2 linked regions of the Homo sapiens genome follow. The protein of the gene in region 1 interacts with the protein of each later gene in a pairwise test. Each region holds a gene or a part of one and is shown on either strand. Other genes may lie near its edges. The genes, in order: ENOPH1 and TMEM132D.

Region 1 (3,823 bases):
ATACCCCTTTCTGCCATCTGCCTATGAGCTTTCCAAAAAAGGTATTAAGTTCATCCTTTTATTACTATTTGTGGTTTTATCATCATTTACAAATTATTCCCATTTCTAAGATGTACCTAAACTCATTTCCTTTCTTTTTTATTCATATATTTTCATAGACCCTAGATTTCTTAATTGGCTACTAGATCAAAATTATCAACATAAAATCTTTTATATCCCCTGTCCTCTCATAGTTCTAAGACTTCTTTTTCCTTATTCAAAGCATTTCTAAAATTGCTCCTCCAGGATTCGTGAGTTTTTCTTGATTAGTTAGGAGAGTAACTCCCTCCTTCAAGCATTACCTTAGAGACCTCAAAGTTAAGATTCTCAAAAATATAAGGAACTCCACTCATATCCTGAATGCTTACTATCCAAATGGAATAGTAACCTTATATGTATACATAACTCAAATAATAACCATGAATTGCCACCGGCACTCCATTAAAACACACACATGATACACGATTAAGATAAGAGCTAAATATTCTTGTTTTTCAGTTTCTCTTTTGCTATGGCGGCATGTGGATAGAGTTCAGGAACCTATATAAAACTGAGTGAAGAAAAAATGCTTTTATTAATCACAACATGAAATTAACATGACATCGTATTAGAATTAAACCAGGATAAATACTGCTGTTATAAAATTTACATTTCTCACATCCATTCCAGAGGAAAATCTTACATATTAGGGCTCATCTTAATGTTATGGACTGATTTCAGTAAAACTTTTTAAATAGTAAATAGCAATTAACGTATTCTCAAACTGTGCTAAGTAGTTAGAAAGGCAACTATAAAATCTATAATGATAACACGTGGCAGGATTAGAACTGTTCTGTTAAACATTAAGAACCACATCTCTGTTTTAGATGTTACCTCAGTGCACCTTTTTCACTGGTAAGGCAACTGCTTGCTGTGGGTGCCACAATGATTACCAAGTTTCTTCTTAAGTAAAAGACACTTGTTTGATCAAGACTCAAGTGAGTTTTCTTTCCCAATTTTGTTCTTTTGAAGCAGAAGGAAATACCTTGGTCTTTGATATATATAAGGAGGCAAATATGAAATACAGCTGTTATAATCTTCTAAATCACAAGGGCAATGAATTATTCATTTTCTTTGAAAATATTCAGTCTTTGAAATATTTCATTTTTAAAATAACAAGGCTTCTGAATAATTTCTCAAAACTAGCTTTCCATTTTAGTACACGATTTGATAAACATAGCACATTAGATAGGTATTTAGCAATTTCTTCTACCAACTACACTTTGCCCTCACTAAGGGTTAGAGTATGATTTGAAACAATTTCTACATATAAAGCATCTTTAAATAAGTTTTGTGTTCACTGAACTGAGACTTCTTTCACTTATGTACCTATGGAAGTTAATCTGAGCATACACATATATACATACTTGCATACATATGTGTACATATGTTTTTTAAGTAAGTTACTTTTACCATTAGAATAAACCTAGACACTACAGGGACAACTCTGGGGAACAGGGCGGTCTGCCTTAACAACCCTTCTCTAGGTTGAGGAAGGCAGGTATAGTTCACTGAAGGATGTGATGAGGCTGTAGTAAGTCTTCTCATCATCTGTTAATCCTGCGTTGCCTGGTCTCACCACCACAGCTACGTGCACATCTGCTTCCTCAGCAGCACTGGCCTCTGTGAAAAATCAAAGGATGTGTGTGTGTCAGAAACACCAAAAAATGATGTCTGAGATTTGCAGCAAAGTCAGCAGGGGGATGTGGGGATGGAAGAAATGAATTTGGCCCTGATTTGATGACTGTTGAAGCTAAAAGATGGGCACCCTGGGGTTGACTATATTATTATCTCTTTTATGTATGTTTTAATTTTTCCATGATAAAATTTTAAAAAATACGTAACTGTACTTGACAGAAGAGAATGGCAGTGTATCCTACACTTCTGAGCTTTATTAAGTACTTATGAATGCAGAAGGATGGAGCCATGTTCTGTCCTACACCTTTCCTCCACTTCCTCCCATCAGCCCATACCGAGAACTGAGCTGTTTCCCAAAGGACAAGCTGTTGGTAACACGAATTAAAATGATATGGGGCTGGGCACGGTGGACCCAGGAGTTCACTTGAACGCCAGACTTGAGTCCAAGAGTTCGAGACCAGCCTGGGCAACATGGTGAAACTCTATCTCTACAAAACAATACAAAAATTAGCCGGGCGTGGTGGCGTGTGCCTGTAGTCCCAGCTACTCAAGAGTGCTGAGGTGGGAGGATTGCTTAAGCCCAGGAGGTCAAGGCTGCAGCAAGCCGAGATCGCACTACTGCACTCCAGCCTGGGTGACAGAGTGAGACCCTGTATCAAAAAAATAAAAACACAAAGAAGATAATGGGACAAATGGAATCCTATGGTTTAATCAGCCCAAGATATCTGCTCTTACCTCCAGACCCTAAACATGTCATACTCCCAGCCTAGAATGGAGCAAGTTAGAGTGGGAAATGGGATACAGGCCTGTGATAAGAGAGATGGCGCTTACTAGGACAGATAGAACAAAACTGGTGAGAAATCTGGAATATATATATATAAATCCCGTGGAATTTAGATTTGGTGTAAGAGTAATCACCATTAGTTTCTCAGCCTTTGGAGAAGAGTCACAGCACCTGAACAGATTAACTGAAGGGCAGTCGTGCTGAGAGAGTTAAGTTCCCAGGAGACACACTGGGGCTGAGCTGTTTCTTCCACCCACCCACCTCCTCAAGTGCCTGCTTTCTGTTCTGCCTGTGAAAGGGCCTGTCACTTTCCCAGAGCAAACAGTACTCAAGACTCCCCTCTCTGTGTGGGAATGTCTTCTTCAGACCACCTCTGCAGATGCCATTGGAGAAAGGCAGCTATCTTCCACTCACCCCTACTTCCTAGCCTGACTGCCCTGAGCAAAGTTTTCATCGTGACTGGCAACCCGGGAATATGACCAAGTTAAGCCATCACAATCCACATGGGACTTGACACTACAAGTGGCCGTTCCATATTCAGGCTTTTTATCTAATTCACTGCAGGGCAAGTTTTATCCCTAAGCATCTATTTGCTCTACTGTTGTAATGCTGAGACACTTTTTCATACTTGGGTATTATTTGGGATTTTATTTTTTATTTTATTGTGTTTTTTCAGAAGGGTCTCTCTCTGTCGCTCAGGCTGGAGTGCAGTGGCATGATCTCGGCTCATCCCAACCTCCGCCTCCCAGGCTCAAGCAATTCTCCTGCCTCAGCCCCCAGCCGAGTAGCCAGGATTACAGGCGTGTACCACTACTGCCTGGCTAATATTTGTATTTTAGTAGACACAAGGTTTCACCATGTTGGCCAGGCTGGTCTTGAATTCCTGACCTCAAATGATCCACCCACCTTGGCCTCCCAAAGTGCTAGGATTATAGGTGTGAGTTACCGCGCCCAGCCATTATTTGGGATATTAACTTAGTTTTTCATTCTGCCTCAGCAGTGGAAGTCTGGGCATGTGGTACCAAAACAGGACCAGAGAGAAAAGAGCAAGCAGGCAGACAGCTCCCTGCCTCATCCCAGCTGCCGATGACCCAAGTTCTGGCCTAAGTGTGTATGGGGCCAGCAGAAGATGAAGGGCAGGAATAAAACCTCCTTACAGAGAATCAAAGGGAGCTAATTTCATTTTGAAGCCAATTTAGGGATTATTTCTATTCTCCAAAATTAGGAATAATTTCTACAATTGCAACTGAGGAAATGGCTTAAATGAGAAGAGAAAGATCTGAAATTATAGATGTACTATGTGATCCCAAATACAAAAATTAA
Region 2 (3,823 bases), on another chromosome or scaffold:
TTGGGAGGGGCCCTCTAGAAATAGATGAGATGAGGTGACCACGACACCAATGTGTCAGGGCCGGGCGTACAAAGCAATGCTCCAAGTCATCTATGAAACACTGGACCCTGAACCTAAGAAGCACGGGAAGGGCAGCACCTCGCTTCCATGCCAGCCACATCCTGTGGACACTACGCCGTCACCAACGAACAAAATCCATTGTTCATTTTTCCGCACTGAACGTATCTCTCCCTCAGGGGGAGAAAAATCCAAAATGTTATTTTCACAAGTTGCCTTACATTCTGTAAGAAAAATGCAGGCAGAGCAATTGCATAATCCAAAGAACCAATTTAAGGAGTTTTAGAAATGTAAACTATTGGCTGGGAACACTGACTTTCTAGGCAAAGCTCCACAAGTTATGCTGAAGCCCTTCTCGTCAGTCACCATGTAATTATCTTTGATTACTCGGACACTCATGGCTCCACCTTTCTCAAAGGCCCACGCAAACACACATCTGGAAGCCTGATGCCTTCCCGAGTCAGGACCCTTCTTGGCAGTCATCCGCCAGCAGCTGAGAGAGCCAAGAGCTCGGAGGCAGGGGTCCTGCTCCCGGCTTTGTGAGACGATGAGCAGGTCACTGACCCTCGTTGTTTCCCATGGACCCATTGGTAGCATGAGGGGGCTGACTGCAGCACTGTAGCCTCAGCCCAGCTGTGATAACACAGGGTGTCAGGCTGCATCCAGTTTAACTTCTAGACAAGAAGTTCAACGCATGTATTCAACCCGAGTTTACAGAAAGCCCTGGATGAAAAAATCTCTCCAATCATCGGCATGACCAAACTCAGAGCAGGCTGAGCTTCCATATAAACAACTAAGGCTTGTCTTGGACTGAACCATTTGAGACTGCTTATAAGTGAGCAGTCTGCATCCACCCAAATGACAATTTCCTAGGGTTCAACGTCATAAATATGGATTGTTTTCAAAAATCAAAATATCATAGATATAAAAAGGGACTCCATGCCTTAAAAAGATTACATGTTTTAACTTTATAGAAATAACTCCTGATTGATATTATCTCTAAACTTGTATCTTCACATGTGAGTTATAGTAAAAACAAAGAAGAGACAAAGAATATTTCAGCCCCTCTCTGGGCACCCTCTCCCCATTTGCCTAGCCACAGTTCTGTGACCTCTCTGGCTGCATTATCAAAGTCACCTTGCTGGGATCCTTTCCTTGACTGTATGATTCTGGGTTATGGTCTCCATCTGGGTTTTTCTGTAGCATCCCCAGCTTCCTGCATCAAAACACGTTATGCTTTGCTGTGATTCTCTATGCACTCCAGTGTGTGATATGCCAGGGAGCAGAAATGACACGCAAGGCTTTTTTCTCTGCTGTATTCACAGTCTTTAAGAGAGTGCCTGGTAAATGTCAGGTACTCAATAAATATTTGATAAACACGTGAATGAATAAATCAACATGTGGATTATGCTTTTTATGTCACAAAGAGCAGATTCTGTTTTTACACTAGGATGTTATTCACTGTCCTCTTGGCTTCCATCACTGTAATCGGAATCCTGGATCCTTTTATCCCATTAAGAGCTCCGTGTAATCCTGGTGATACGGGACTAAGGAAGATGGGCCTCTCCATGTAATGAGACTCCTATAAGACCTACATCAGTTGATACAGTGTCCCCTATTGTTAAAAACACATCTTGGCACCACTCAGAACAAGTACCTTGAGCTGCCTCAGCACTCTTTTGCCATTCGTGCTAGAAACAGCCAAAGCCAGACAACCAAATTACAGATGCTTAAATGTTAATGCCAGACACCAAGGCTCCGTGAACTTCCCTGTTGAACATCTGACCCCGACTACTTGAGGACATGAAACCTAACTGTGCAGCTAATTACACCTTCCAAGGGCAATGACATCGGGTCCTATGATTTTATTCAGGAAAGCAATAAGGCAATCGGGGTCACTGTGAACATCATTTGAAGGGAAGTAACTTCTTAGCTTTATTCCACAAATGGTCTATTAGTCATTTTGCCTGGTATCTGACCTAAATGTTTATTGCTTAAAATTGCTCCATTTTGACCTAAAGCTAGTGTCACTTCCTTTCTTTTTTTTTTTTAACTAATACTACAAAAATAATGCCAATTATGGTCCACGATGCACAGAATGAACGAAGTAAAACTCATTATCCTCTCATCCTTACAGGAATGGTTACTGTCACTAAAGGACATGATTTTTATTTAACATAAAAATTAGCAAAGTGTTAAATTACAAAGAAGCTATACACAGTAAATCTCAGCTAATAATTCGCTAAGGACAAAAATTACTTTTTGATTGGGTTCCGTGGCTGTAATTCTTACTTGAAGGAGAGTGACATGTTCGCATCTTGAAGCAACTCAGTGGTCTGGGAGAGATTTTGTATTAATTTTAACATTTTTGAAAGGATCATTTTTCCCTGAATAATACTTTTTTAAAAAATATGGGAGGAAGGCAATTTGAGCACAAGACTCTCAGTTTTCCCCTATGTGGACTCAAAAGCAATAACTAATCGAATACGGTAATAGGCAAAAAAAAAAAAAATCTACATCCATGCTGAAAATTAGGTACAATCTGCATGCCATAGACTGCAAGAATTACTGGGACTCACAAGGGACTCAAATACCTCACATAGAAAACAGAATGATTAGGGCAGCCAGATAAAACACAAACACCTAATTATGTTTTGATTTCCAATAAACAGAAATATTCCATAGGGCATGCTTATAATTAACAATAAATATTTTTAAATGGTGTTTTTCTGAAATTCAAATGTAGCTAGACATCTTGTGTTTTATTTCCCAAATCTGGCAATCCTCAGCATGGTATTGTCATAGAAAGAAAATAGTTGTCCGCTGAGTAGATAGCTGTAAGATATCTGATATCTAGGCAGCTGACAAATCTACCCTGATATCTGCAAGAGCAAAGGCCATGGGCCATGTGGGTGCTCCCGCACCTGACAATATTCCCAATGCTGGGAGGCAACCAGCTTTGCCATCAGCTGAATCAGAGACCCAAGCATAGGGGGCGCCGCGCTGCACAGAAAGCCCTAAAACATCAAGGCGTCTTGCTGATGCTGTTCTTCCCTAACAGAGACAGTGATGGGGGCAGGAGGTTTGACATAGCCACACTGCTCCTGGAATGAGTCCAAACCTAAAATCACTTACAGGAAACCAGTGCCCATGTGGCCCCTGCACCCAACTCACAGAAGGCACCTTGGAGCAAGGGATCTCCCCTGCTGGGCATGTCAACACCCCAGAGCATCCTCACCGTCCCCCCAGGGATGCCGGGTCATATGGTAACATGCAACGCCAATGTAAACAAGGCTGCCCTCGGTGAAGGATATGTAAATAAACAAAAACAGAAGGAGAACAGGACCTACCAATAAAAGCTGCAGAGTAACGAAGGAAATTCAGAAAGACATTCAAGAAGTAGAGGAATAACATACCTTTGAAGAGTATTTACCATAGAATATTGAAGTACCTTTTATACAAAATGACTTCGGAGCTCACAATCATCAAGAAAAGCAGAGCCTTTGTTGTTTTGTAAGGAAATAAGACTGAGATGGAAGAAGATCCTGAAGTATTAAAAGTAAGGAATTTAAAATGGTTTCAGATGCAATAACACAGATTTGAAAAATGCAGAAAATTGAATTTATCATATGAGAATGGGAGCTTTTGAAGCTTTCCCTACAGCTAAATAGAAAAGGCGAAGCAATGGAAATGATCAGTAAGAGGCTGTAACCATGTGAGATGCACATTAGATGTTCAATATTCAGATGATGGAGCTCCTAATGAA

What was found.
Region 2: the proteins of ENOPH1 (region 1) and TMEM132D interact in a two-hybrid assay, tested with the Homo sapiens proteins (one large-scale study listed by BioGRID).

What each region holds. Positions count from the first base shown.
Region 1 is NC_000004.12:82,457,859-82,461,681, reverse strand, and holds the end of ENOPH1 (enolase-phosphatase E1), read right to left. Parts: intron 1,702-3,823; coding exon 1,562-1,701; 3' UTR 505-1,561; downstream 1-504. UniProt on the Homo sapiens protein: Bifunctional enzyme that catalyzes the enolization of 2,3-diketo-5-methylthiopentyl-1-phosphate (DK-MTP-1-P) into the intermediate 2-hydroxy-3-keto-5-methylthiopentenyl-1-phosphate (HK-MTPenyl-1-P), which is then dephosphorylated to form the acireductone 1,2-dihydroxy-3-keto-5-methylthiopentene (DHK-MTPene).
Region 2 is NC_000012.12:129,701,370-129,705,192, forward strand, and holds part of TMEM132D (transmembrane protein 132D precursor), read right to left. Parts: intron 1-3,823. UniProt on the Homo sapiens protein: Regulate neuronals morphology via inhibition of the WAVE regulatory complex (WCR), a complex that controls F-actin cytoskeletal dynamics.